Linked DNA regions of Homo sapiens: region 2 is linked to region 1. The links come from fine-mapping of genetic effects on gene expression. A gene starts in region 1. The other region holds a variant in brackets. All regions are shown on one strand. Distances are from middle to middle. Region 1 holds the start of IL13RA2 (interleukin 13 receptor subunit alpha 2). Region 2 overlaps LRCH2 (leucine rich repeats and calponin homology domain containing 2).

The links. PIP is the estimated chance that this variant, and not a neighbour inherited with it, causes the effect. A credible set is the group of variants that fine-mapping cannot tell apart.
Region 2: its variant is the best candidate, but not a certain one, in a credible set for the expression of IL13RA2 in thyroid (GTEx, PIP 0.71).

What each region holds. Positions count from the first base shown.
Region 1 is chrX:115,015,473-115,019,718 of GRCh38, reverse strand. It overlaps IL13RA2 (interleukin 13 receptor subunit alpha 2), which reads left to right and starts at 2,103. Exons shown (of 10, transcript NM_000640.3): 1 at 2,103-2,166; 2 at 2,417-2,543; 3 at 3,898-4,049. The coding sequence starts at 2,450.
Region 2 is chrX:115,169,987-115,174,232 of GRCh38, reverse strand. It overlaps LRCH2 (leucine rich repeats and calponin homology domain containing 2), which reads left to right. Exons shown (of 21, transcript NM_020871.4): 6 at 3,801-3,934. Among named protein-coding and RNA genes, the nearest start is that of RBMXL3, 17 kb to the left of the region's middle. The variant A/G (reference allele first, on the strand shown) is at 2,118.

The DNA.
Region 1 (4,246 bases):
AAATGCTATTTGATAGCCTGAGTCAGATTTCATAGCCTATAAATGGAATAGAAGCAAATGATTTTAAACTCTTTACTTAGCATTTATGCTGTACATGACATAATGCTACGAAATCTTAAAGGACAGATCGATAGGGGAGAGAGAATTTTGTTAGAATCTCTCTGAGAGCATTGTAAGGGCAGCCTGATTGCCCTTAGTCCTTAAAGGTAATATGGAAGGTTTTCTCTTTGTCAGACCTATTGCCCTGATCCCAGTAGTAACCAGTGTGTTCATCTTAATCTCTGAGGGTAGCTCTGTGGAAGATCCATAACCTTCTGTTAGCCAAATCTACCTAGTACTTACAGATGCATTAGTGGGCAGCCATTGGCTGGCAAGTAAAGAGAGAGGAATTGGGGAGAAAGAGAGATTTGTTGGGCCTCAGTGAGAGAAATGACATTCTCTCCTGATTTTATGAGGCGCAGAATTTTTAAAATAACATGGTGTTGATTCAGCTTGGTTTGCTAATTAAAGGAAGATTTAAACACTGGGGTTCCAGAGGAAAAGCGTTCATAATCCTGAGTCATGCCTGTGGGACCCAGCAGAATGGGGTGGAAGTGCACAGGACTGGGCATCATGAGATCTCTGTTCTACTTCCAGCTTTGTTACTAATTTGCTGTGTAATCTTGGGTGGGGCAAGTCTGAGTTTTACTGCCCAATTTATAAAAGAGAATTTGACTAGCCTTGTCTGTAATATACATACTGGTTCTAAAAATTTGATCCTAAGATTCTATAAAGTAGCCATTGAGGCTTACCAAAGTTACAATATTACAGATGGATCAGGTAGGGGGAAGAGGGTGGGGTGGAAGAGAGGGTCTGTCCTATTGAATTAATCTATGCACAAGAAAAGAAGGGCAGTCCCTTCTTTTCTTTTGAGTGACTTTTAATCCTTTACTTTATGTGAAATTGTTGGTTCCAGAATATAGATTCGAAGAGAAGTGTATGGAATTGGGAGTAGTAGTTTTTCCTGAAAAGCAAAGTATTTTTAATTGAGTAGCTATTTGAAGGCATGAATCCTTTAAATTTTGATCATATCCGTCAAGAACCAATATCCAAGAACAGAAAGATGACTAAATTGTATTCTATGGCAATGAAATGCTGTTTTAGTTTAAGAAAGAGATGAAAAGTTCAGATTTGCCCTTTAGAAAGGTCACTCTTGCTGTATATGGTGTGGAAAATGGATCAGAGGCAGGAAAGACTGAATAAGGAGATCCCTGCTAAGATCCTCCATTTAGGAAGTGGTAGTGGTAATGGAGAGATTAGATGGGAGAGGAGTTGAGGAAGACTCCCAGGTTTCTGGTTTGGGCAACTGGAAGGATGGCGATGCCATTTACTAATAAAGGAAACACAGGAAAAAGTGGAACAATAATGAGAGTAGATGGAAATAAAAAATTTTAATTAAAAGAAGTAATTAAAAGAAAAAAGGAGCAAAGAAGAAAGTCAATCGTCCAGCAGGGGGCGAAAGAGCTAAATAAACACTTTTTTTAAACTAAAAAAAGAAATATTTATGAGGAAACAGAGCAAAGTTTTGAACTCTCTGAGGCTTCGGTTTAGGTTCTGAGCTTTCTCAGTGGTCAAATAACTTTCTATTTTATTTTATTTTATTTTATTTATTTATTTAGAGACAGTCTCGCTCTATTGCCCAGGCTGGAGTGCAATGGTGGGATCTTGGCTCACTGCAATCTCCGCCTCCCGGGTTCAAGCCATTCTCCTGCCTCGGCCTTCCGAATAGCTGGGATTACAGGCGCCCGCCACCATGCCTGGCTAATTGTGCATTTTTAGTAGAGAAAGGATTTCACCATGTTGGCCAGGCTGTCTCAAACTCCTGACTTCAGGTGATCCACCCGCCTCAGCCTCCGAAAGTGCTGGGATTACAGGCATGAGCCACCATGCCCGGCCGAAATAACTTTCAAATACTTTTTTCTTTTTCTTTTTTCTTTTTTTCCCCTCAGAAAAGAGTATTTGACTGTGTTTTATGTGTTGCTAGGGGAGACGGTTGCTATGGAGATGGATGATATCATAACTCCATTGTGAACCAGTAAGAACACTCTCGTGAGTCTAACGGTCTTCCGGATGAAGGCTATTTGAAGTCGCCATAACCTGGTCAGAAGTGTGCCTGTCGGCGGGGAGGTGAGGAGCTACAAGGGTTTTTGCTTAGCTTTGTTTTTATTCTTGTAAGCAGGATGAGACTAGAATCCTTTCTTTCCAATTATATTGGTTCCTAACTTGATTATTTCTGTTTCCATGGTCTGAGGTGGACACAGTTTTCCCAGTTCTTGGTAGAGAAGCACACAGAGAGCTTTCCAAAGTATTTTTAATCACGTTTAGTTTGATTATTTGATGTAAGATAAAGTTAAAATGTTATATTTTTCCTTCATAGAGAGGCAATATCAAGGTTTTAAATCTCGGAGAAATGGCTTTCGTTTGCTTGGCTATCGGATGCTTATATACCTTTCTGATAAGCACAACATTTGGCTGTACTTCATCTTCAGACACCGAGATAAAAGGTAAATGGATTTTAATGGAATAGTTTTTAAATTAGGAAAAGTAAAATTAAATGGATTTTAATGGAAAATTAACTGTCTTTTTGACCTGCCTTATGGAAGTGCATAACTAACTAGTAGATGAATTGTTATTGAAACTATTTCAGGAAGTTCATGAAAAAAAGCTATGTTCTTACTAGTCACTTTCTTGTATAAGGTAACTGATGTTGACACACATTTTGTGCGATAAATGCCAAATTAAAAACACTCTCCATACCTTTTTGTATAGTCTTTTTTAACAGATTAAGTATCTGAAACCTCATTGCCTGGTACTAAACTAACTGGAACAGTTCCTTAATTACTATCCTTAGCTACTATCCTTAGCTTTTATGACAATTAGATACATTAAAAAGGTACAGAAATTTAACGTAAAATTTAAAAATAATTAGAATTATTTAATTTTTCAATTATATTATATTATTTAATATAATGTTAATGTTTTATTATTAATTAATTAAAATTATTTATAGTATATTATTATATTATATATTATATTATAATTAATATAATTAAATACATATATTTATATTATAGTGATATGTTAGTTATTATTTGTTATTATTTGTTGTTCTTATTTGTTATTGTTATTGTTAGACAGATTTTTGTAATAAAATGTTCCCATCTTAGACCAAATTCTGGCGTACATGAGCACAGAGATAAAGCCACATTGAATTTTTTGCTTCTCTAAAAATTAATACCTAGTGAGGCAAAGTCACATTTTGCATATGTGATTTCTCAAAGAAGGAACAACTATATAGCAGTAATCTAGATTTTTTTAACAGCCTTACTGAGATATAATTTACACAAAACTAACTCTTTATACAAAACTATATTCTTTAAAACTATACATGTATAGTAAAACTCTTTACTATACGTTGGTTTTTAGTATATTCACAAAGTTGTGCAACAATCACCACTATCAAAGTCCAGAATAGTTGCATCACCCGTAAAACAGCCCCTAAACCCATTAAGCAGTCACCCTGCATTGTTTCTCCCTCCAGCCCCTACCAACCACGAATCTACTTTCTCTCTCTATGAATTTGTCTATTTTGAAATTTCATAGAAATGGAACTATGTCAATATGTGGTCTTTTGTGTCTGGCTTCTTTCAGTTAGTATAATGTTCTCAAGGTTCATCCATGTTGTAGCATGAATCAGTACTTCATGTCTTTTTATGGCTGAATAATATTTGATTGTATGCATGTAGCACATTTTGTTTATCTGTTAATCAATTGGTGCACATTTGGAAGCCATCTAGATTTAGCAATATTTGTCATAAAATACAGAAAAAATAAAAGTGTTTTATTGATTTATTTCAGTTAACCCTCCTCAGGATTTTGAGATAGTGGATCCCGGATACTTAGGTTATCTCTATTTGCAATGGCAACCCCCACTGTCTCTGGATCATTTTAAGGAATGCACAGTGGAATATGAACTAAAATACCGAAACATTGGTAGTGAAACATGGAAGGTAAGTAAAGCATGCATTTGCCGTATCAGAGTGATCATCAGGTGTTACTTTGTGATTCCTGACTTTAGTGTCCGCTCCAATTCCCATATCTCAATAGTTCTAATTAGGATATAAAAAGCTTCCACACCCGCTTCTGTCTCCTATGCATCCTGCTATATCTGTTTTCACCCCATCCAGTGTTAAGATTGCCATTGGAA
Region 2 (4,246 bases), 150 kb before region 1:
AGTGTTCTCACTACACACACAAACAAGGTAACTACATGAGGTGATGGGCATGTTAATTAGCTTGACTGTGGTAATCATTTCACAATGTATAATACAGTTGATCCTTGAACAACATGAGGGTTAGGGGCATCGAACCCTGCATACTGTAAAAAATCCATGTATAACTTTGGAATCACAAAAAACTTAGCTGCTAATAGCCTACTGTTGACTGGAAGCCTTATCAATAACAAACAGTTGACTAACACATATTTTATATGTTATATGTTATTTACTGTATTCTTACAATCAAGTAAGCTACAGAAAAGAAAATGTTATTAAGAAAATCATAAGGAAGAGAAAATATATTTACCATTCACTAAGTGGAAGTTGATCATCATAAAGATCTTCATCCCCATGGTCTTCACATTGAACAGGGCTGAAGAGGAGGAAGAGGAGGGGTTGGTCTAGCTGTCTCAGGAGTGGCAGAGGTGGAAGAAAATCCATGTATAATGGACCTGCACAGTTCAAACTTGTGTTGTTCAAGGGTCAACTGTATATCAAAGCATCACGTTGTACACCTTAAATTTGGGAGTTCAGTCAGGGTGGTGGGAAAAATTATAGAAGAAAAGTTATGAAGATAGTTATAGGAAATAGACACAAACCTTCTTGGAAGGCTGGGGGGGTTGCATAGCTTCAGTAAAAAGTTCAGCTGAAGTCAGCCTAATCCTCTTACCTTGAGTTAATAGTTTAAAGTAGGTACAAAGGAATGTAAGGGAGTTTATCTAAATAGCTTGTTTACTCATGTGGCCCTAAGCCCAACCTTTTATCATCTGTGAGTGCATGATTGCTCTCTACTCGAGGGGTTGGCAGTGTTAATTACCTTCTAGCGGTGTTTACTCGAGACCTTTGTAATTTAATCAGTACTAAATAAATGCGAACTTCCCCGGCTTATCGAGGCAGATGCTGCAGACTCAGGCAGCAGAGCCCCTTAGCCAGACTGACAGGCAAAGTATCTGTGTCAGTGTACGTCTTTCATCCGTCATTGGGTCAGGGTCAGCGGGATGGACATGGCACTTAAATATAAAAAAATTTTATTTGTAACTCATACTTTAATAAAGCTCGAAGAAAAAATAAAGAGGAAAAATGGAGCATATTCATAGGAGTGCTAATCAGCATGGCTTTCTAGCAGCAGTTGTGGAAACTGGCAGATGTTGGAATGATACCTTCGAGGACTAAGGGAGTATTTCTAACATTCTACATTCAAACTGTCATCAAATGTGAGGTAGAAAAAGGTTTCAAACATGCAAGATCTTAGAAATTTTTACTCCCATGTACCCTTTCTTAGGATGCTAGCAGAGGGTGTACTATACCAAAGTGAGGGAGTAAACTAAAAAAAGGGGAATTCTTCTTGTCTGAGATTGACAGATATGCATAGGCCTAGTAAGCAGCCAGTCAGTAGTTTGGAGTACAGGAGTTGTCTCCAAAAAAAAAAAAAAAAAAATAGAAAGTAAGAGATGATTTGATACGTTTGTCCACATGGAGAGATGTTTTATACTTCTGTCAGAGTCAAGAATGAATTTATAATAGGCATATAGAAAATTTTTCAAAAGAAAAAATGGGGCCATTAATTACTTTAGGAAAAACAAAAACTTACAGGAGAAAGGAAATGTAATCATATTACTCTGTAGAGTTTATCTGTGAATATTTTCTTGGTCATAATAATATAAACACTAGATTTTGATTTAGTGAAAAACTGTGACATAGTTATAATAGCAGAGATTTATATAGTATTTGCTGTGTTCTAGACACTGTTGAAAATGCTTTACATATATTAACTCATTTAATTCTTATGTTAACCCTGTAAAACAAGTACTGTCATTATCCTCATTTTACATGTAAGAAAACAGAGGCATAGAAGTTAAATGACTTGTTCAAGGTCACATTGCTAGCATGGGTTAGAGCCAGGATTCAACCTAAGGCAGTGTGACTGCAGAGTCCATGCTCTTTAACCACTATGTTATACTTCTGAAGAGAGAAGTATGTTTATGTGAATTGATAGGAAGCGGGGAGGCTGGGATGGTGGTGGTGGTGTGGGTAATGTAAGAAATCCAAGTCCTCATCTTCCTTAGTGATACTCC[A/G]ATAAATCTACCATTGGAAAATTTAAAACAAATAGCAGTAGAAGCATGTTATTAATAAATATGAGGGCAAATAGAAATTAAACTAAAAGAGTTTAAAGTGGGAATTTGATCTTAGAGATTGAAATAATTAGAATGGGCTGGGCACGGTGGTTCATGCCTGTAATCCCAGCACTTTGTGAGGCCGAGGTGGGAGGATCACTTGAACCCAGGAGTTCGAGAACAGCCTGGGCAACATGGTGGGACCCTGTCTCTGCAAAATATAAGAAAGATTAGCCGGGCATGGTGGTGTGTGCCTGTAATTTCATCCCAGCTAATCTGGGAGGATCACTTGAGCCCAGGATGTCGAGGGTGCAGTGAGCCATGTTTGTGCCACTGCACTCCAGCCTGGGCGACAGAATGAGACGCTGTTTTCCAAAAACAAGCAAAAAAAAAACAAAAAAACAAAAAAAAGGAGAAGTAGAATTGAGGATTATGTCTTGTCAGCTTTGTAATTATTTTTAAATTTAAAAACTGTGTACATGAAGTACTATGATAAAAAGTTAAAATTTACAAGAGAGTGATTTACCAGCACTTAATTTGGTAATTAAGATAAATTTTTGTTTAGTTTGGACGTATAATAGAATACTACCTCACATTTTAATTTTAGCACATTTTAGTTGATAGTATTTAATATTAATAATTTATAATTAATAGAAAAATCAATGATATTTACAACATTTAATTGGCAATATATTTATATTCTAATAGCTCAAAAGTTTTAATTTTCCTTTTAAATGAAATTTTTCAGTGGTCAAGTCAGACCTAGTATCTGTTAGAATTATCTAAGAAACATTCTTCCTTTGGACCTGGAATGATAATTGCTTTTTAATGTTGTTGTCTTACTGTTTTCTTTGCTGATTTTTTTGCATGTGAGGTAAGCTTATGTGAGCCCATAAAATGTTACATTTTTTATTAGAATTTTGAGAAATATTTATTTGATGTCACTTAGTGACTGTAATTAACCTTGATAAAGCTGACTTACAGTTTTCTTACCTCTCATTTTCTATTGTTTTTATACAGAGTATCTTTGCTCACATAGTATTTTATTCCTCATTATTCATTTTCTCTATGGCCAACGAAAGTAATTTCTTAGGATATTATTCTAGTTGAATTGACCAGTGTTTTCTTTTATTATTTCAGTCTCACCAGCCTAATATCGTACCTTTCAAAAAATTCATTTTTCCTATATTTATATTTTTTATGTTAGCCTTCTCCAGGTTTTATGCCAAACATCTTAGTGGTTCTGATGAGATTACTTTAAAGAATCACATAGATTATTTGTTCTTTTCTTACCATTCCAATGAATATATATTTTTCATTTTTTCAAATAAAGGCCACTTTTATGAGTTGTAAACTTCATATTGTTTAATAGTTTGTACATTCTGCTTTTGACAAGAAAACTCTAGTGAAATATAGAAAAATTAACTTTTTTCAATAAGAACAGAGATGGCAATAGAATTTTAGTTGGTATCAGTGTTGTCAGATTTTTCCACCTGGTGTCAGAAGTACAAATTATTTAAATATGCAAAGTATCAATCAAGATTGTGATGTCTCAATGTAATTTGAGACTATTGAATGGTTTAAAATGATAGATGTCATTTATATTTGGAACTATATAATTAAATCTTTATTTTTTATTGACAGATATGTTTAAAGGGTAAGGTGCACATATTTAAGTACTTAAATATTCAAGCATGTTGCAGAATGGATAAGAAACCAGATTCCCTGGATCTTCCATCATTGAGTAAACGAATGCCCTCACAGCCTCTCACAGACAGGTAATGTAACATTCTTACAGTTTCATTTGATGATTGCTGTCTTCTCTTTTTATGAAATATACTTATTAATCTTGAGTGTTCCGAATATATTTAGGCTGATTGGTCCAGCACTAAAATAAATAATTGGCTGAAGCTACATATCACCATCATAGAATGAAGTTCTAGGATACTAGAATATTTTTGACATTTTCTCAATCATTAAAGTTTTAGTAGTAAAAATGTAAATGTTTGACATTATATTACGGAAACACTAATTTCTCAGCATGTGACAACTGTTAATTTATTTTGTGATCACTGTATTGTACATTTGTA